Homo sapiens: one gene and its partners. The protein of the gene in region 1 interacts with the protein of each later gene in a pairwise test. Each region holds a gene or a part of one and is shown in the gene's direction. Other genes may lie near its edges.

The links.
Region 2: the proteins of RBBP6 (region 1) and EVA1C interact in a two-hybrid assay, tested with the Homo sapiens proteins (one study listed by BioGRID).
Region 3: the proteins of RBBP6 (region 1) and ETS1 interact in a two-hybrid assay, tested with the Homo sapiens proteins (one study listed by BioGRID).
Region 4: the proteins of RBBP6 (region 1) and HP interact in a two-hybrid assay, tested with the Homo sapiens proteins (one study listed by BioGRID and IntAct).

The regions. Positions count from the first base shown.
Region 1 is NC_000016.10:24,570,544-24,573,387, forward strand, and holds the end of RBBP6 (E3 ubiquitin-protein ligase RBBP6), read left to right. Parts: intron 1-332; coding exon 333-1,902; 3' UTR 1,903-2,320; downstream 2,321-2,844. UniProt on the Homo sapiens protein: E3 ubiquitin-protein ligase which promotes ubiquitination of YBX1, leading to its degradation by the proteasome.
Region 2 is NC_000021.9:32,408,084-32,415,737, forward strand, and holds the start of EVA1C (protein eva-1 homolog C isoform 1 precursor), read left to right. Parts: upstream 1-4,622; 5' UTR 4,623-4,770; coding exon 4,771-4,930; intron 4,931-7,654. UniProt on the Homo sapiens protein: Binds heparin.
Region 3 is NC_000011.10:128,577,552-128,584,597, reverse strand, and holds part of ETS1 (protein C-ets-1), read left to right. Parts: exon of another isoform or gene 1-1,601; intron 1,602-7,046. UniProt on the Homo sapiens protein: Transcription factor. Directly controls the expression of cytokine and chemokine genes in a wide variety of different cellular contexts. May control the differentiation, survival and proliferation of lymphoid cells.
Region 4 is NC_000016.10:72,057,460-72,061,556, forward strand, and holds the end of HP (haptoglobin isoform 1 preproprotein), read left to right. Parts: coding exon 1-7; intron 8-794; coding exon 795-896; intron 897-1,654; coding exon 1,655-1,729; intron 1,730-2,652; coding exon 2,653-3,431; 3' UTR 3,432-3,596; downstream 3,597-4,097. UniProt on the Homo sapiens protein: As a result of hemolysis, hemoglobin is found to accumulate in the kidney and is secreted in the urine. Haptoglobin captures, and combines with free plasma hemoglobin to allow hepatic recycling of heme iron and to prevent kidney damage.

The DNA.
Region 1 (2,844 bases):
GATTTTCTTCAGTTTTATCCATGCTTGTGCTTTTTATATTAATTATGAATGCTGATCTAGGGAAGTAGGCTGGTTTTATGTAGTCTTTTGTTGTCTTTGAAGAAGGGAATTGCCAAAGACAAGGTTGTAAATAGATTTTGGGGGTGAGCCACATTTGTGTTGATACAATCATAATCTTAAATTGTGTGTCTTCCTTAGGGCAGAATAAGTTTTTTGTTTTTTTTAATGTTAAAAGGACATTTGTGTTTAAGTTAGCATTTTTATATTTATCAGTGTTTTATAATTAATAGTAAATTCTTCATTAATTAAAAATATTTTGTTATTCTTTTTAGTACGAGCTCAACTGGAGGCAGTCCTGTGCGGAAATCTGAAGAAAAAACAGATACAAAGCGAACTGTGATTAAAACGATGGAAGAATATAATAATGACAATACCGCGCCAGCTGAAGATGTTATCATTATGATTCAGGTTCCTCAATCCAAATGGGATAAAGATGACTTTGAATCTGAAGAAGAAGATGTTAAATCCACACAGCCTATATCAAGTGTAGGAAAACCTGCTAGTGTTATAAAAAATGTTAGTACAAAGCCATCAAATATAGTCAAGTATCCTGAGAAAGAAAGTGAGCCATCCGAGAAAATTCAGAAATTCACCAAGGACGTGAGCCATGAAATCATACAACATGAGGTTAAAAGTTCAAAAAACTCTGCATCTAGTGAAAAAGGGAAAACCAAAGATCGAGATTATTCAGTGTTGGAAAAGGAGAACCCTGAAAAGAGGAAGAACAGCACTCAGCCAGAGAAAGAGAGTAATTTGGACCGTCTGAATGAACAAGGAAATTTTAAAAGTCTGTCTCAATCTTCCAAAGAGGCTAGAACGTCAGATAAACATGATTCCACTCGTGCTTCCTCAAATAAAGACTTCACTCCCAATAGAGACAAAAAAACTGACTATGACACCAGAGAGTATTCAAGTTCCAAACGTAGAGATGAAAAGAATGAATTAACAAGACGAAAAGACTCTCCTTCTCGGAATAAAGATTCTGCATCTGGACAGAAAAATAAACCAAGGGAAGAGAGAGATTTGCCTAAAAAAGGAACAGGAGATTCCAAAAAAAGTAATTCTAGTCCCTCAAGAGACAGAAAACCTCATGATCACAAAGCCACTTATGATACTAAACGGCCAAATGAAGAGACAAAATCTGTAGATAAAAATCCTTGTAAGGATCGTGAGAAGCATGTATTAGAAGCAAGGAACAATAAAGAGTCAAGTGGCAATAAACTACTTTATATACTTAACCCACCAGAGACACAGGTTGAAAAAGAGCAAATTACTGGGCAAATTGACAAGAGTACTGTCAAGCCTAAACCCCAGTTAAGTCATTCCTCTAGACTTTCCTCTGACTTAACTAGAGAAACTGATGAAGCTGCTTTTGAACCAGACTATAATGAAAGTGACAGTGAAAGTAATGTTTCTGTAAAAGAAGAGGAATCTTCAGGAAACATTTCTAAGGACCTGAAAGATAAAATAGTGGAGAAAGCAAAAGAGAGCCTGGACACAGCAGCAGTTGTCCAGGTGGGCATAAGCAGGAATCAGAGCCACAGCAGCCCCAGCGTCAGCCCCAGCAGAAGCCACAGTCCTTCTGGAAGCCAGACCCGAAGCCACAGTAGCAGTGCCAGCTCAGCAGAAAGTCAGGACAGCAAGAAGAAGAAGAAAAAGAAGGAAAAGAAAAAACACAAGAAACATAAAAAGCATAAGAAGCATAAGAAACATGCAGGCACTGAAGTGGAATTGGAAAAAAGCCAAAAACACAAACACAAGAAAAAGAAGTCAAAGAAGAACAAAGATAAAGAGAAGGAGAAGGAGAAAGATGACCAAAAAGTGAAATCTGTCACTGTGTAAAAAGACAGATTTTTTAAATTGACTTAATTACTAAGTCATCTGTATTAAATTTTGTTATAATGTAAAGAGATTCAAGCCTTGTAAATAATGACATGGAAGACCCTGTGCTGCACTTAAAATATTGCTGCTTGATTATTTGATTTTTACATCAGAGCTTTATAACACGAACTTTTGTACAGAATTGTGAGTTGTGACCATGTAACATGAGAGGTTTTGCTAGGGCCTATTATTTTTAACCACCATTAATTAGTTGGGGTGGAGTTTACTGTAATGTGAAATTTTCACATTTGAATTTTTTAATTGCCTGGCAAAAGCTGATATAAGTTCTAAAATATCAGCAGAATGATTTGCTGAATTCATTACAACCCTGTTATGTCACTTTTTGATTACAATAAAAGTTTTCAGTAAACTTTTCAAATGTTGAGTATTTGCATTATTTACAGAAAGTAGTGCCATATCTGTATACTTAACCCACCAGATGCAGGTTGTATGTGTGTCTCCATTTTCCTATTTTAAAATTCTTAGTTTTTAATACAAGCTGAACTGAATATACAGAATTCTAAATTAAACATGGAAGATACATTTCATAGGTGGGCAGGTGGTAGAGGCCAGAAATGAATCAGGATTAATTGGAGATGTGGTTAAATAAATCTAGGAGAGTCTTGAATTACATAGAAATTCGAAGTTTGAACTTTCAAAATGGTTTGGATTTGAATATTAGAGATGCAGAATTGTGACTCGTTTATGGCCACGTATTTTTCTGGAAACCCTGATAAATAAGTATTAAATTCCTTGATAAAGGAGAATGCAGCTAAACCAGTGAGTGCTTGTGGCCTACCCAATCTGCCCAGTTGACAAGCAAGCGGTCATTACTTACGATGAGTTTCCTTTATTGCTGTGGTTCGGGAAGTGTACCTGGGGACAGTGAAAAGGTACTGAAAG
Region 2 (7,654 bases), on another chromosome or scaffold:
GATGCGGCTCTGTGGTGCCAGCTCTAGAAACAAACTACCATTTGTTGCTTTCTAAAAAAAAGCCTTTTAAGCTCCAGACGACATTGGGCCTCTCTCTCCTGAGCTGAAAGGTTGGTTTCTTTGAGGTTTCCAAATGGCAGCTTATGTCTTCTCAGAAGGGCTACAGCCCATTTGTTGGAAGCCAAAAACCTTACCTCAATGGCCCAGGTGAGAGGACATGGCTCAGGGTTGCAGTCTGAGTGTGAAGCACATAAACATCTCCCATAATAGGCTTGGTGGCTGGGCCTGGTGGCTCAAGCCTGTAATCACGGCACTATGGGAGGCCGAGGTGGGTGGATCACCTGAGGTCAGGAGTTCAAGACCGGCCCAGCCAACAAGGTGAAACCCTGTCGCTACTAAAAATACAAAAGAAAAAGAAGAAGAAGAAAAAAAATTTGCTGGGTGTGGTGGTGCACACCTGTCATCCCAGCTACTTGGGAGGCTAAGTCAGGAGAATCACTTGAACCCAGGAGGCGGAGATATCAGTGAGCCAAGATCGTGCCACTGCACTCCAGCTTGGGCAACAGAGCAAGACTCCACCTAAAGAAAAAATAAATAGGCTTGGATATGGCAGAGGGTGAGAGACAAGTAGCTAGGATCTCAAGGAAGAAGGAAAATAGAGATGTAACATGGAGCTGAAAAGAAGGTGCAGGAATTGCTTTAAAAGAAAACAAAGAGACAGAAAGTAAGACGTGTAATTTACAATGTCCTGTAAAGGTTGCCTCTTGCACACATGGACTGAATGCTGTGACTACAGAGGCACTTTTCAAACTAGTACAAGAAGGAACAAGATTGCCCAATGGTGCCATCACTTAGAAAAGAACCCTTTATTTTACCTCCACCTAATTGCTGTGCCTTTGCAGTATAAGAGGGCTTCAAGTCTTGGTTCGGACGGTCAGTATGACTCTGTGCCCTCAGTCTCCCCATCTGAGAAATGAAGATTCCTGTTGTACCTGGGCCAGCTTCATATGACCTGAGCAATCACTCAGGGCCCTGTGTTCAAAGCATTAAACTATGCTTGGTTTAATGCTCTGCTATTATCATCCTGGAATTCTTAATAATCCTTGAACGAGGGGCCCCACATTTTCGTTTTGCACTGGGCAAGTAAATGACGTAGTTAGCCTAGTTAGTACCTATCTCAAAGGGTTGTTGTGAGTATTAATATTTTGGAAACACTTTATTATTTGGCACACCAGTCATCATTCACTTTAATTCCAGCTCCCATAACTGTGTTGAAATACCAAGTGGCTATGACTGTTTTTATTATTCAAATTCCATCATAGTAGAAAGCATTTAAGGAAAACTGCCTCGGTGGAAAAGATTATTTCTCTCCAGACCCCAGATTGATTTTACACTGTTCATCCCTCTTTGAAACATATATTCCTTTTCCCACTTTTCCGTCCTATGAGTTGTTATAGTGCCTCAGAGTTAAGGTATTTGACCTACAAAGCTCTTAGAAAAGTGTGGGGTCCAGAGAGAAAGATAACTGAGCAATTCAGTTTTCTCGCAAGATTCCAAAATTCTTAAAGAGATCAGATTAGGACCAAAATCTTCTGATTTAACAGTGAGGGGCTAAGGGACAAAACAGAGGGAAGCCAGGGAGACGTCCTTCAGACCCTCTCATAGCCCACGACTGCCCGGTCGCATTGTGCTGTCCATCTGCCTTCTAAACATCCTTCCATTGTGGCCGCTTCTCCTCTTCTTTCTGGGTGTACAGCGAGCACATCAGCCCAAGCACAGCCATAAACCCCTGACTGCACTCTCTCCCTCACCACGGCCATCTCCCCAGACCCACTTTTCTTTTTTGAGACGGAGTCTCGCTCTGTCTTGCCCAGGCTGGAGTGCAGTGGTGCAACCTTGGCTCACTGCAGCCTCTGCCTCCCGGGTTCAAGCAATACTCCTGCCTCAGCCTCCCGAGTAGGTGGGACTACAAGCGTGTGCCGCCATACCTGGCTAATATTGTATTTTTAGTAGAGATGGGGTTTCACCGTGTGGGTCAGGCTGGTCTTGAACTCCTGACCTCAGGTGATCCACCCACCTCGGCCTCCCAAAGTGCTGGGATTACAGGCACCAGCCACTGCAGCCGGCCACATGCCATATATTGTTTATCCATTCATCCACTGAGGTTCTTCCATCTGTCAGCTCTTCTAAATAATGCTGCAAGGAATATTGGTGCATAAGTATCTGTTTGAGTCTGTCTCTGCTTTTAGTTATTTGGCACACATACTTCCAGGGCCTGCTTTTGACTCCTCCAGTCCATTTGCACTCAGCAGCCGAGAAGGACTTTTTACCAACACACATCCAATCACATCACTTTTGTACTTACAGTTCTTTGCTGGCTTAAGATAAAAGACGGAAATTCTCACCAAAGTCTCCAGGGCCCTGAGCTCTGGCCTGCCTACCTCCAAGTCCCCTGGCTCTTCCCTTTGCTCTGCTCCAGCTGTCTAGACTTTTCCCCATCCTTCAAGACAGCCATGCTCCTTTTGGATTTCAACATGCTGGTCCCTTTTTCTAAAATGTTCATCCTCCCGCAACACCCGGGTTTTGCTAGTTTTTGCTTGGCCAATTCATCCTCTAGCTTTCTCATCCATCTTGCCTTAAAATGCTCCTGAATATCTCCCTTCCTCCCTCGGGCTCAGCTCCTTCATTCCTCGCTTCTGCTCCCATGGTTCCTGTCTTTCGTGACTGTCCGTTCACGGGGCATTATTTTCCAATGTCTGTCTTCCCTGCTGTAATAGTAACTGTATGCATTCATCCACTGGAGTTGCTTCCATCTTTTGGCCATCATAAATAATGCTGCAATGAATATTGGTGTGTAAGTATGTTTGAGTTTCTGCTTTACCAGGTAAGAAAGCCTGGGGATGCTGTCACAGTGAGTAACAGTGCCCACTTAGACATTTGGAAGCCAGTGCAGACCCACAGGGCAGTGCTGCCCACTCCCAGGACTCGGGAGCATGGCTGCCTCCCTGTGCCAACACTGTCAGTCACTAGCGCAGAACCTGGCACACGTTGGTACCAATTCATATCTAAACTGGATGAATGAACAGACAGAATGGAAAGTACAGGAGGGACCCGAGTTTTGGACAAACATTACTTACCCTGTGGCTCCTAAGTGCTGGGCATCCTTACCCACACTCCCAGCTTCAGTTTCCCTAACCTAGAGAGCGCACACTAATATTTATGTTCAAATGTTATTGGGGAGGTTGAGTTTTTATTTAATATTTGAATGTAGATTTTAAAAATCATTATGCCAGACAGGCTGGGCCTCACTCGATAAACACTGATGTTTAGCATTTAACACACTTTTCCCCAGACTGGAAGAAGAGGCCGAGATCCCAATTCGGTGACCCAGCCCTTGCTGGAGTACTAGGTGGTATCTAATGCCATCCACCCTTCCGGGATCTTTACGGCCCACCTCTGAGTGGGTCCCACGGGGACCCTCAGCCGCATTTTCTTTCTGCAGGCCTCCCTGCACACTCTGGGGCGTTCGCAGCTCTGGAGCCCGCGGGGCAGTGCGTCCGGCCCCGCCCTGGGCCTCATTATCTACGTTTCCGCGTCACGCCCGCCGCGAACTTGGCAGGCCCTCCCGCCGGGTTCGGGAACACTGTGTGCCTAGCGCCCGCCCTCCTCCCTTCCGCCGGCCCCGCGCGATCCATAGGGTTTGGGTCGCTGGGCGCCAGGTACCCGCACCCGGCAAGCAGCCACGGAGCCCCTCGCGCACTTGTCCTCGATACCCTTGAGTTGGGGCTACGCAGGCCACTCCTAGGCCACTGGCTGGGCGTCCGAACGTGGGTCACCCCGCGCACAGTCTAGAGGTTCAGAAAGATGCTGTGGCCCACTTTAAAACAAAGCCCAATTATTAGCGCTCGGCGGCTGTTTGCGCCGGTGCAGTGTCAGATCCCCCAGCGCTGCGGACAACCAGCACCCAAAGGAAGCCGAGCTGGAGCTAAAGATCCCGGCTCCGGAGCCATCTGACCGGTTTTGAGACCTCCAGCTCGTCGCCGTCCTGGCTGCGAGAGCTTGGGCACGGCGCCGGGGCTCAGTCTCCTCTTCTGTGGAATGGCGATAACTGTATGTGCCGGGTGACTGCACGTGGCGCGCGGCGGGTGGCGGGGATGGCAGCGGTGCGATCCCACGCCTCCAGGACCCCACCTTCCTGCGGCCCCCGATCGGCCCCGCCCCGGGGGCGCCCCAGCTGCACGCGCGGCGCTGGCTCCAAAGTGCGTCACGGGCACCGGCCGCGCTCCTTCTGCCGCCAGGGCGAGGCTGGCACCCGGCCAGCGCGGGCAGGGCCACGGGTGCCCGGCTGTTTCCCGGGTGTGGAAGGCGCTCAAGGTGCGCGGCCCGGGGCGCGCTACTGGGGGCGCCCTCCGCGGTGGGCAGCGCGCCAGGGATCGGCCTGGGCAGCCGCGGGGCGCGCGAAGGCTGCGCTTTCCCTACGGCCCCCCTCGCTTCCTCCGGCACGGCGGCAACGGAGATTTCCTCTCGGGGAAACTACGCGGATCCTTTTCGGGGATCCTCGCCCCGCCCCAGTTCTCCGCCCCCTCCCCTTTGCTGGGGCGCCTGGGCTGGCCCGCGCAGGGGAGGAGGCTCTGGCAGCCTGGGCAGGGAGGCGGCGGGGGGCCGCGGAGCCGCTGGCCATCGATTCTCCCCGCCATGTGACGCCGTCCTTAGCCCTGCGACCCCCAGCGCGTCCCGGGCCTGCGCCTCCGCCCCGCCGCGCAGCGCACGATGCTTCTGCCGGGACGCGCACGCCAACCGCCGACGCCCCAGCCCGTGCAGCATCCCGGCCTCCGCCGGCAGGTAGAGCCGCCGGGGCAGCTCCTGCGCCTCTTCTACTGCACTGTCCTGGTCTGCTCCAAAGAGATCTCAGCGCTCACCGACTTCTCTGGTAAGAGCGCCCTCCCTGGCTGTGTGCCCCCGGCACCGCGGAGCGCCCAGGTGAACCCTCGACTGGGGGCAGCCGCACCAGTGGACACGGCGGGGTAGGATTAAAGTTGAGGCGTGCTCACAGACACTTGTCTGGTGTGAGCCCTTGGCATATAGATGGCTGCGAGTGAAGTGGCGACGGGGGACTGCCACTCCCAAGAAGGAAGGGTGTGTAATGTATTCAGAGTTTCTCGCCCTGCTGTTGACCTCGTCAATTTCCTAGCATTAGGGACCTGGTCCTGAGCCACGCTCGTTCTATGGAGGCTCCTTAAACTGAGCCCTGTGCCGCGCCCAGCGCTGTAAAATACACGTGTTGTGGTCGGAGGCGTTGCGCCGCGTTTGTCACCCGCGTAGCCCGTTTGCCCATGTAAGGAGACTAGCCCAGGGGACACTTGACCTCGAGTCCACATTGGCAGGTAGAAAGGGAAGCCCGCGGGGACTGGAGGTCTGGTGGAAAGGCAGTGAGGGATGAGGAGATACTTAGATAAGAGAGAGGAGCCTCTCTGCCAAAGTGTACCAGGGTCCTCCCTCTCCAATTCCAGTTTCCTTCACAGAAAATAATGACTTCCTACTCTCGAATAAACTAGGAGGCTTTTCTTTTTGGGAATCGTGATCCAGGCTCTCGCAGCGGATCTCAGATAGTTCTGAGCTTACAGGTGTGACGCCCCAAAGTGAAAGGGATTTCTAGGTTGACGATAGCCATAGGAGCACATGCTTAAGTTAGCGCTGCAGTTGCTTAAGGTAACACATGTCCTTGCCGCTGAAGCACACCTGGATCTCCCTCTGGCAAGGCTGGAGGCCTTCAGCCTTCCCCAGCCCAGCTTAGGGAGCAGCTCTGAGCCCCATACTCCTCCTTCTCCAGGGATCTTCTGCCAAGTTCAGGCTTTGCACAGTCGGTCCCTATCGGGTCCTCAGTGCAGAGTCTTTTGCAACATAATGGTGGTAAAGGGAGTCCTCCTCAGTCCTGTTTGTGCAGTAGGCTAGTACATAGCAAAGAACAAGGGCAAACCAGAAGTTGAGATGGGGTTCTAGTTTACTTACAGAGAATGTCATTGTTAGTGGAGAGCCCTTAGGTCAGAGGTTCTTTGCTTTGAATATGTAATATCAAGGCAGTATTCCTACCTAGCAAAGGAAGCCAAGATAAGGCCTATTTGGCAAGCCACCCACGGCCCTTAAAATCAAGCATCCCAGGATCAGAACTCTGTGGTAAGAGTTGTGGGGAAATGCATCAGACTTTTCAAGGGCTATTAACTTTTTTTTTTGTACTACTAGAACTTTCTTGGCTGCTAGAAAAGCTCTGTATTAGCTGATTTGAGCTATGGAAAGCAGTTCTGAGTTCAGCCACCATCTAGCTCTGAATTCTAAGGAAATAATTGAAAACTGACAAGCCTTTTTGTGTTTGTGACATCATTGCAACTGAACAAATATTGCTTTAGGCAAATTGCAGTGTAACCATTAGATTGTTTTCACAGATTATAGACACTTAGAGTTCTGTTGCTTTAGGGAAGCAGTTGCAATACTTGTAACAGTCTATAGATTACCACCCAAGTTTGGAATTGTCTGTATCTAGCAACTGTTACATACAGTGGAGTTGAGCTATCAACTCCTTAGTAAAATGAATGATTTGATACATGTTATTCTAAATAGTATAAATGATAAAAGGCATTTTCTTCTGCTTTCCATACGAACCTAAATTCCAGGGTTTCAAACTCCCTGAGCCAGCAGTAGGTGGTGATATTGCCACCCACAACGAGCCCCCATTTTTCCTCTCATCAGTGATGCTCTCCAGAGATCTGAAGATTAGGCAGAACATGTCAGAAGCCTTTTGGGGAGAAGAAAGGAAATATAATGTCCTCCCAAACCACTGATGCACTTAAATTTAAACCTTAATTCTATATCATGTGAGGTCAGGGAAATATTAGAAAAATCTCAGGGAGAAAGAAAGATCATCTTCCAAAGTTGGCTCATTTGACTTGGATTTTAGCCGCCCTCCCTCTGCAAATTCCTAAGCTCCAAAGATGACCATCTTATTGTTCGGTTCAGTGTTTCAGCTGACGCGAACCCCATGTGGCCTCAAAGCTTGCCGCCTGTGTTCCTGGGACAGTCGGTCCTGTTCCTTTTTATGAACTTGAAGGAGTGCATAGAAACCAAAACTGAGGCCTGGAAGGAGACAGTGGATCCTCCCCTGCAGAGCCTGATCACAATAACCAGGGCTAGAGAGCAGTGTTTGACAATGCAGATACTTGCCTGTTTTTCTAAATAAAGGGAACATCAAAAACTAGCAGAGGATAGAGGAAACTTGGGATCCCTCTGCCCTGTGAAGGAGGAGGGAGGATGGTGTATCCATGTGAAAGAAAGTGCCAGAATGTCAGGGGTCCCAGCCATTGTCTGTACAATATAGGCCCCTTTCTCCCCCCAGGAGATTAGCAGTGCAGAGTTTTGGAAAGTTCCTTAAGCCTTTCTCTTCTTTGCGGCTCTTCCTTGAGCCTTTTCCTGGGGCTGTCAGCTGGTGTCGTTTTCCTGGGTCATTGATTTTTTTTTGCCCTCAGGGATTCCAGCATCGATCTCACTCTTAATAAGCCAGAGGCAGCATCATGGCCCCCTCCTCCTCCCTGTCCATGCTCGTGACTTGTTCTAATCACCTCCAAGCTTGCTAGTAAACAGGCTCCCCAAACACCGCCTTCTC
Region 3 (7,046 bases), on another chromosome or scaffold:
TCACCTAAGGAGGAATACTCAGCCCTAACGTTTACTGAGCACTTGGTATGTTCCAACATCCTTGCTAGGTGCTTTGCAGGGACTGCTTCATTTAATCTACAATGAAGTTTTGAGGTGGGCACTCCACTCTCGTCATCCCCATTTACCAGGTGGGGACTCTGAGGCTCAGTCATATGACCGTGTTAACTCATGGTGGACCCTGATTAGAGCCAATGGAATGTGAACCCAGAGCTTGTGATTGGAACTGCATGTCATAGGAATCTAAGTAACTCTAAGACATTTACACAAATTTAGGATAGATTTTTCTGCTTAGACTGATTTGCTTATCTAGGAGAACACTGGATTAAGCCTGTTTTCTGAAGTGGTATCTGTGGATTACTTATTCATTGTTATGAAGATACTGACTTTGAAGAAAGACTACCCAGGCCTAGTTTCCTGGGTAAGTAAGTCAGTCCCTTCCCTGACAAATATCAGTTTTATTTCTACTCCATGCCCAGCCTTGTGCTGGAGACCATACCAAACACAGAAGAAACAATATGTAAACTCCATTTTTAAAATTAACACAATAATCTTTACTAGAAAAGAGGATAAAAATGAAAGACAATATAATTATTAAGTAGTGTAGTATAACCTATACATGCTTTGGGAGTTCAGGTAGAAAAAAATGGTATCTAGAGCAGTGAGGGAAGGATGTTTCTGATCTGCCTTTTTTTCAAAAGAGGATAGATTTCATATTCCAGTAATCAAGTGTTGGAGCTGCCTTCAGAACTTAGAGGGAACAGGCTGGGTAGTACTTACTAGCATGAGAGTAAGCAACAAACATTTAGTGCAAATGTCAGGAAAATATTCTCAATGGGGAGGAAAAAATATATAAATTTTCAAGAGATGTGGAAAGGTAGAAAACTCCAGAATTTTGGTCTTTTTAGAGATTTAAAAGAGATTTAGTCTTTTTAGAGACTTAAAAAAAACTTTTCACTTTGAAATAATTCCAGATGCATAAAAGTTTGCAAAACAATGTACAAAAAGTTTCCAAAACATGTGAGTCTTTTACAATTGTAAAAAAAAACATATAATGCAAATAACTCTTTTAAATTATCTCTTGGCACCTCTTGTAATCCTTAATCCAAATGACTTCTGTTGATGGGAGAAAGCACCATTGCCAGTTTCTTGATAAAAGGGACCAAATAACTAGAACCATGTCTTCTTAGGAAAAGCAAGAAGTCTTGGCAGATGTGCATCTGGCATATGGCTCCTGAGACACTGACAGGTCCTGAGCTACTCAATTCTCCCCAGCCGGGTTTGTATTGCACCTGAGGTTACCAGCATCTGCTCAGCCTTGGCACAGAAGTCTTGCCTGTTCCTCCTTGGGCTCTGCCTCCTAAACACCTACCTTGTTATAATCACTCATGAGTTCAACCAAGTTAGTCCAGCGCTGCCTTGCTACTCACAGTGAAGTCCTCTGACCTGCGGCATCAGCACCACGTGGGAGCTTGTTAGAAATGTGGAATGTCTGGCCAGACCTCAGACCTACTGCAGCAGACTGCATTGTAACAGGATCCCCGGGTGATTCATATGCACATTACAGTTTGGGAGGCACTGCTCTAAAGAAAAAGCAAAAACAAATGAAAAAGCAAAAATGAAAAAAATGAACAAACAAGAAATCTTGCACTATTTTCCGCAGTGCTTTACTACTTCCTTATATTTGTATCTAGTTGCTAAAGCGTAAGTCCACAAAAGATCGACATTATATCAAAAAGATGTTGGTTTAACTCAGGAAGCTGCAATATTTCACCATTTGTGCTATGCAATCTTTCAATGAGTTAGTTCTCCACTGTAAGAAAAATGCTTACTTCTTGGTTTTATGCATAACAATGGTACAAACAGACTACCATTAAACAGAAATTGTGGCTCTTTTCTCCTGCAAAATTCTTGACTAATGCTACTCAACCTATGATTATGAAAGGGAATCCTGTTTTCATGACTTGAATACAAGTCTTTAGAAAAAGAGATGAGAGATTTAGCTATCCATGTTCTAGCTCTAACACTTAAATAACCTCTGCCATGTTGGGCAGTAGAAAAAAGTAATTAATATAAAACAGTAGTGTTACTAATTAGTGACATTAGTAAGCATTTACTAATGCTTACTAATTGCCAGGCACTACTGATAAAATAGCAATAATAACAATTATTATTTATTGACCATTTTTACTATTTATACAGCATGCTGCTAAGTATTTGTGTTTTGTATGATCCTCCTCTATAATCCTGAAAGTGTTGATATTATTACCTGCATTTTATAGTTGAGGAAACTGATTGTGAGGTTAAGAAATTTGCTCATGGCCATACACGCAGCAAGCAGTTCTACGTTCACCCATAGTATGTAACTCCAGGGTTCTTGATCACTGCTAAACACGTAACCTCTTAGGACTCAGTTCATTGAAATAAATGAGAAGATTGATGAATTTTTTCCAACTCCAAAATTCACTGGAATTGCACAATCCCTCTTTATATAAGAATGCTAGCAAGCTGTTTAGCATTATACTGAGAAATTGGAACCTTACATTTCGGGTAATAAAACAAATGAAACTCCACCATGAAAATCACAATCAGACATAGTCCAAGAAGTTGCTTGCTGGATTTGAGAGATCTAAGGCAGCTGGTATCTTTTAGTTCAATTTTAAAGGGGCATTATTGCAACTATCCAGTCCCCTCTCATTGTTCTTGTAATATCTCTTTCTATTTATGGTGCCTCTCAGTTTTGTTGAGAATTCCTTTAGAGCCAGAGCCAAGTCTAAACTCTAGATTATGTCTGACATGCTTCACAGGCTAAGAGTCTGTAATGTAATTCTTTAAAATGCTAGTCTCTTCAGAGGTTTCATTGGCAGCATTCATTGGATTAGAGTTGACGTTTTTAATCTCGTGGCCCTTCTTTGCATTTGACTTGGAAAACAATCTCTTATTCCATGGCCTCTATTACGACCATTCTTGGAAAGCAAAGAGTACTCTACATTATTCCTCCAGCTTATTCTTTTTTTGTTTTGAGGTTCGAAGTAAAACACAATCCTTATTTATTTATTCAGTTATTTATGAGTACTTACCATGCTTCTGGCTCAGGAGTACATCCTAAGGCCAAGTGTGATCATTTGTTGAATTTCATGGTAAAATACAGGATTTGAGGCATAGCATTTGTACACAGGCTATGGCCACTTTTATGGTAAGGCAGTGTATTGAATATTACCTTTGATCTTCAGGAAGATGTTCTGACAGAAGTATGATTGACTAGAAAGTGTAGATTGTTAGTATTTCAAAGGTTTCAGAGACTAGAATTGGCATTTTCTTAGTTAGATTCCTAGACCTAAGAGTCGGCAGGTTTTAATGTATTTCCTTGATGCCTAGGAGAAGCAAGACCTTTCTGTCCATTGTTGACAATGCCATTTCAGTACTGTATGGTGAGGGATTTGTTTCCACTGAGAAGGAAATGCATAAAATAATCTATGAAGCATTCCTTATTTCTTAACTGCTATGGTATACCAGAGTAAAACATCTTCTAGTCTTTCTCTTTTTCAGGAGATAGTAGCGAGTTACTCCTCAAGGAAGGGTAAAACAATATACTCTTTAAAATTATAATGACATGAGTTCATTTTAATATTCTAAGAAGGATTCGTTGAGCTATGTCAATTCATACAGGACTTGAAAGTGTTATGCTTAATTAGGAGATGGGTTTATTTTTAGAGAAATAGGAGATGGATATGACTCATTTCCATTTAAGCAAGGGTTGGCGGAATAATTATAGTGAAGTTGTGAAGAAACAAAGACTGAGATGTTAATTGTACTGTGAGTTGCTGCTCTGTAACCTTAGTGAAAGAATAAATGCACTTAGCTTAAGACACAGAAGACAGTAGCCCATAATTTGGAACACAGCCTTCATTTGTCAGTGCTGGCTACTTAAAATAAGAAGGAATATTCACTACTACTGTAATGTTGGATTACTTAGTCAAGCAAATGAGGTTCTTGTAGATTTAGTAGTGAGACAGAAAAACCATCTTCAGTTCTTCTAATCCTTTTTCTTTTCTATGCGTTGTAACCACAAAGTTTCCATGGGGAGTAAGGAATGTTCAGCTTTCCTAGATATGATGGATCTTAAACCTGAGTTCTTAGAGAATTGGATTTGGGAGCTTTTGTTACAGTGACAGGTCAGGGAAGACATCTACTCAAATGATTTGGGAAATACACGTGGGCTACTCATGAGAATCAGAAAGAACACACTGAAGGAGTATAGATGAACTCATCAATCTGGTACATCCTATAGTTTAGAGAAAAGTGCCATCTTGCTTGTAGTTAACTCTTGAGAAGCCTAACCTCAGGGTCACACAAGGACACACTTCATCACAGGGATTTTTTTTTTTTTTTTTTTTTTTTTTAATGTCCAAACGATAACTTACTCTCTTGGATAAGCTCAGGACGCACAAGGATTGTACACACCAACTCTGTTTCAAGTACTTTAGGTACTTTCCCTCATTTAGTAAACAGACACTTGTTGCATGGCTACTATGTGTCATCTGAAAAGACACCATCCTTACTCTCAAGTTACTCATCATTCAGGAGCAGAAACAGGCATAGATACAGGAAGTGTCATGAACTTTGTTACACCGTTACAGTAAATCCCATGGAGGGGCATCAAGGAGGTCCATGCAATTGCCAAAGAGGGTAGGGGGGAGGGGAAAGCTTCCTGAAAGAGGAGATACTCTGAGTCTTCAAAAATACATTTCTATAGTATTCAGAAAAAAGAAATTAAAACTCTATACATTGTAGATTAAAGATGTTGCCTTGGTAGCCCAGGTGTTGCCTTTAGTTTGGCAAAAGTGCTGTTGTTTGGAGCAAGTTTTTTTTACATGGTTAGTTGTTTTGGACACCAAATTCTTTTTTTTTTTTTTTTTTCAATGGAGTTTTGCTCTTGTTGCCGGGTGGGAGTGTAATGGCGAGATCTCGGCTCACTGCAACCTCTGCCTCCCAGGCTCAAGCGATTCTTCTGCCTCAGCCTCCCAAGTAGCTGGGATTACAGGCATGTACCACCACACCTGGCTAATTTTGTATTTTTAGTAGAGATGGAATTTCACTATGTTTGTCAGGCTGCTCTTGAACTCCTGACCTTGGGTGGTCCGCCTGCCTCGGCCTCTCAAATTGCTGGAATTACAGGCGTGAGCCACCGAGCCCAGCCCTGGAAGCCAAATTCTTTGTCTCCTGTATTCCAAGCCAAAAGGACATGCTTTTTGTTTGAATTGATAGGAATCCTAAATTATTGACATTAGGATAAATGCTCATTGGAAATCTATTCAAATTTTGCATTGTTTTCAAAGAGGAAAGGCTGGGGTGAGGGGTGGTGGGGAGAAATCTACATTTTCTGCCACAGCTTTATTGTGCTTTTGAATTCCCCATGTGCCATCTTCATACCCAGGATATGTTTTAACCATAATTCATTGCCTATGAAGCTAACATGAAGACGAGAGGGCAAGTTGAAATTTAAAACATGATGCCTTTGTCAGTGGGAGTCTAATTTTGGCTGGTCTATTATAGAATGCAGTTAGTCAATATGTATTCAAATATGGAATGCATATTTTCTTTGTCCCCAAAATGCTCTTTTTCGGCATTTAGTGGGAATGTAAAATATTTTAGGAATTTTTATAATGACAAAGAATTGGGGACAAATTAATTATACGATAATAAGAGGCTCTTTAAAAGTATGATATATACATACAATAGAATACTTGGCAGTCATCATCTTTAGGATAGACAGCCACATTTATCAACAGAGAAAAATGTCCATAGCATTATGTTAAATGTCAGTGAACAAAGCAGGTTACAAAAGAACATGTGGAGAATAATCTCATGAAGGTAAAATTGTAATCACGTGTGTGTGTGTGACATCTATGTTCGTTTAGATAGATTAAAAAATACCCAGAAGAATATTGAACAAATTATTAGTATAATTATCTCTACATGGTGAGGTTTCAGGTGATTCTAATATCCATCTGTTACTTTTTTGTATTTTAATTTTTGCGGTAACATTGTATTAGTTTGGCAAAAACTGCTGATTTCAAAAGAATTTTGTTTTCAAAAGAAAAAAATTAAAGTGTAATTTACTTGGTATTTACCTAAAAGCGTAGTTTTTCTTTTAGGAATACATAACCCCAAATGAAAAAGGCTTAACTGATGTCAAAGTTATCTAGAAATACAGCCAAGCAGGGTCAGAGTTGATGTGAACTGGATTCAGCCTTGATTCAAGCCTGGTCTCTTTGGGATTTCTTGTTCTTCTGCTGCCTTGGCCTGAACAGTCCCTCTCCTCCCTAATTTTTCCTTTATTCTGTGTCTCTCAACCTGCCCTGCCCTGCCCTGGCAAGCTTTGGGTGAAAGGAAGTGAGAGCCTACAGGTCCTGGCCGGGTTGCCAGTTTGGGGAGGGTGGGAAGTTGGAGAAGTGGTCACTCGCTCTATGAAGAATAGAACTCTCTAGAATCAAGCAGAACCATAGTTTTAAAGTGATTTTTTGGACATGAGACACCCACATAAGCCAAAGTGTTGACTTTTTTGTCTTCTCCATCTCATGCTTGTTTCTGTCCTCGCCATCCAGGGTGATGAGGGTGCTTAGAGAAGCATCTTCTCTCTCTCTCTCTTTTTTTTTTTTTTGGCTTTTTGGCAGAAGAGAATTCCCTCCCACGTGACAACTGCTTGAACATCAGCTGCACCAATTTTTTTCTTAGCATTGCACACGTTTATTGCATAAATGCAAAGCAACTGTGGCATCTGAAGATTTACTCCCCAGCTAAGCAGCATCCATGAGACCTGTTTGGGTGCAAAAATGATTTGGACGCTGGGTAACAAAGGTCTAGAGAAGCATCTTCTCTAAGCACAGGAGGAGGCTGAAGACCAGGAGTCTGGTCTCAGCTTGGCCAATTAGCAGCATCGCCTTAGTCTTTCTCCTCATTTGTAAAAAGAGGGGTTTACACTGAAAAAGTGTGTACAAGTTTTCTAACTTACACTATTGTATTTA
Region 4 (4,097 bases), about 47 Mb from region 1:
GAAGCAGGTGGGTGCTGAGCACTGAGCACTTAAGAGAGCAGGCAGGCGTCCAGCGGGGAACGTCCTAGAGGCACAGCCTTCCAGTGCGGCTTCCTCTGAGCACACAAGAGCCAGGAGGAGGGATGTGGGAGAACCGCAGCTGGCCAGGGAGAGACTTAAGCAGTTAGGTGATGACTCCCTAAGGGTCACCAAGGGTCTTGTTCATTGGGGCCTGAAGGGCACTGGCTGAATCCACTGTCGGCACTGCCCACAGATCAGGAGAGCCTGTGCATACAGAGAGCCTGCTAGAAAGCCCTGGGTCTAAGGAGAAGCAAGCTCCAGGGAGAACAAGTCAAGGAATGACATAAAATCTTAATCCATGGAAGCCTAGCAGGAGGCTGGACATGGGCTGGAACTCCTGCTTCTCGTTATTAGGAGGAGCTGTTGCTCTCTCCTTTCATTCTCAGAACCAGAGGCAAAGACCCAGCCTCTTCTGCTCTTACTGGTGTGGAAATGCCAACCTGCCTCGTATTAACTGCACCATCTACAAAATCTGAGCTCCAGCCAGTGCTGCTCTAGATTCATCTTTCTTTAGAGAGAATGAATTATTGTAGCCCCTAGCCCTTTCAATGAATTTCAGGGAATTGTGGAAATTCCTTTATTGGGATAATTGTTTAAAAATAATACAGTTCGCGAGCTTCTATTCGGGGTGGAAGGAGATTGATGTGCAGAGCAGCTCCCGCTCATCTGACTTTTCACGGTTCACTGGGAACAATTTCCAAATAGCAAACTCTCTGGCTTCTCTCTCTTTGCAGATGACGGCTGCCCGAAGCCCCCCGAGATTGCACATGGCTATGTGGAGCACTCGGTTCGCTACCAGTGTAAGAACTACTACAAACTGCGCACAGAAGGAGATGGTAAGATGTGGACAACTGTCTCCATGCCCTACATACAACCCCCTTCTCTGACATTTCCATGATGGGTGGTGCTGAGGTGATTCGCCAGAAAGTTCGTTGCTCTCCTTGGAGCCAGGAGATTTAGATTCTAATAAGCGTTTTGTCGCCAGTAGCCATGGCCCTTTGGGCAGACTAACTTTTGTCAGCCTCAAGTTTTCTGTTTTGTTAAGGGGAGGCGATGCCATGCAGCCTACCTCATGTAAATCTCAGAGTCACATTTACATCTCCAGCAGATGTGGGAAAAGAAGGAATGCTGATGATGATGTCACCCTCACCTAGTGAGTCTTGCTGTCCTGGCACTGCTCTAAGGGCTTTATACTTATTTGCTCACTTAGTCCTCACAGTATCCCTCTGAACAGAGTTTATTGTTTTCACTTTGCTGATAAGGAAACTGAGGCACAGACAGGTTGAGTATCTTGCCCAAATTCAGGCAGCCTGTAAGAGGCAGAGTCAGGATTTGAACCCTGAGCCCTCCCTGTACTGCTTGGCTGTGACCGCCATGACCACAGTGTGTTCTGCTGGGCTTAACTGGCATCCAGGCACTTGGCTTCCAGCACAGCACTCTTTCCCTTCCTCCTTCTCATATACTCTCTCCTTTTCCCCTTCCTTTTTGTCCCCTTTTCCTCTTCCTTTTAGTTCTTCTCTTTAAATGCCTTCTCACTCTGCACGGGGTCTAGACTTGACTTCTCCTTTGGCTCACTTCTTGCCTTTTGTTTCAGGAGTGTACACCTTAAACAATGAGAAGCAGTGGATAAATAAGGCTGTTGGAGATAAACTTCCTGAATGTGAAGCAGGTGGGTGCTGAGCACTTAAGAGAGCAGGCAGGCGTCCAGCGGGGAACGTCCTAGAGGCACAGCCTTCCAGTGCGGCTTCCTCTGAGCACACAAGAGCCAGGAGGAGGGATGTGGGAGAACCGCAGCTGGCCAGGGAGAGACTTAAGCAGTTAGGTGATGACTCCCTAAGGGTCACCAAGGGTCTTGTTCATTAGGGCCTGAAGGGCACTGGCTGAATCCATTGTCTACATCGCCCACAGATTAGGAGAGCCTGTGCATACAGAGAGCCTGCTAGAGAGCCCTGGGTCTAAGGAGAAGCAAGCTCCAGGGAGAACAAGTCAAGGAATGACATAAAATCTTAATCCATGGAAGCCTAGCAGGAGGCTGGACATGGGCTGGAACTCCTGCTTCTCGTTATTAGGAGGAGCTGTTGCTCTCTCCTTTCATTCTCAGAACAAGAGGCAAAGGCCCAGCCTCTTCTGCTCTTACTGGTGTGGAAATGCCAACCTGCCTCGTATTAACTGCACCATCTACAAAATCTGAGCTCCAGCCAGTGCTGCTCTAGATTCATCTTTCTTTAGAGAGAATGAATTATTGTAGCCCCTAGCCCTTTCAATGAATTTCAGGGAATTGTGGAAATTCCTTTATTGGGATAATTGTTTAAATATAATACAGTTCACCAGCCAGGGCTCAAAAATCTCAGTATTTCCCACTTCCTTTGTTAGAAAAGTGGGAAATAGAGCTTTTTGTAATGTAAACAATTTAAAAAACAGAATTATTTTAAAACTGCAACTATTGGAAATGAGATCAGCAGGTGGTAAGGGCAAAGCATTTAAATCTTTCTACTTTACGCAGCAGTGACAGCCGCCCATGCTTTCACCCCTTTCTCAGATGGAAAGGCTCTTGCACATTTCCACTCACGAGTGTCTTGCTCTCCTTGACAGTATGTGGGAAGCCCAAGAATCCGGCAAACCCAGTGCAGCGGATCCTGGGTGGACACCTGGATGCCAAAGGCAGCTTTCCCTGGCAGGCTAAGATGGTTTCCCACCATAATCTCACCACAGGTGCCACGCTGATCAATGAACAATGGCTGCTGACCACGGCTAAAAATCTCTTCCTGAACCATTCAGAAAATGCAACAGCGAAAGACATTGCCCCTACTTTAACACTCTATGTGGGGAAAAAGCAGCTTGTAGAGATTGAGAAGGTTGTTCTACACCCTAACTACTCCCAGGTAGATATTGGGCTCATCAAACTCAAACAGAAGGTGTCTGTTAATGAGAGAGTGATGCCCATCTGCCTACCTTCAAAGGATTATGCAGAAGTAGGGCGTGTGGGTTATGTTTCTGGCTGGGGGCGAAATGCCAATTTTAAATTTACTGACCATCTGAAGTATGTCATGCTGCCTGTGGCTGACCAAGACCAATGCATAAGGCATTATGAAGGCAGCACAGTCCCCGAAAAGAAGACACCGAAGAGCCCTGTAGGGGTGCAGCCCATACTGAATGAACACACCTTCTGTGCTGGCATGTCTAAGTACCAAGAAGACACCTGCTATGGCGATGCGGGCAGTGCCTTTGCCGTTCACGACCTGGAGGAGGACACCTGGTATGCGACTGGGATCTTAAGCTTTGATAAGAGCTGTGCTGTGGCTGAGTATGGTGTGTATGTGAAGGTGACTTCCATCCAGGACTGGGTTCAGAAGACCATAGCTGAGAACTAATGCAAGGCTGGCCGGAAGCCCTTGCCTGAAAGCAAGATTTCAGCCTGGAAGAGGGCAAAGTGGACGGGAGTGGACAGGAGTGGATGCGATAAGATGTGGTTTGAAGCTGATGGGTGCCAGCCCTGCATTGCTGAGTCAATCAATAAAGAGCTTTCTTTTGACCCATTTCTGTGTTGTGTTCAGTCTTGAGTCTTTTTTATTTGCTCCTTTATGGTCCAGGGTAGTCAGAAGGTATAGAGTCTACTGGGAGTATGGCAGAAAACACCCTAAACCCACTGGAAATCCCGAAGGTGATACAAACTCTTCCACCTTAGGGAATCATGCTCACTGATTGAGTGCCTATTGAATGCTAGGTCCCAGAAAGTTAACTGTTGTCCTTGTTTTACAGACAAGGAAACAGAGACTCAGAGATGGTAAGTGAGTTGCTTAAGGTTACATAGCTATGAAACAGGGAAGCAGAACTTTGAACCCAGGTCTGTTTGATACAAACTCAGAGGTCCTTTCACTGCATGCTGTTGCCTCCTCAAAGTGAATTAGGAGAAAAGGCATGGGCCTGGTTGAGGAAGAGGCTAGCTCAAAATGGGATGGGGAAAAAGTGTTTTAACACAGACAGTACTTCAGAGTTTGGGATCTAACCTACCAGCACTCCAGAAAACAAAAGACAAT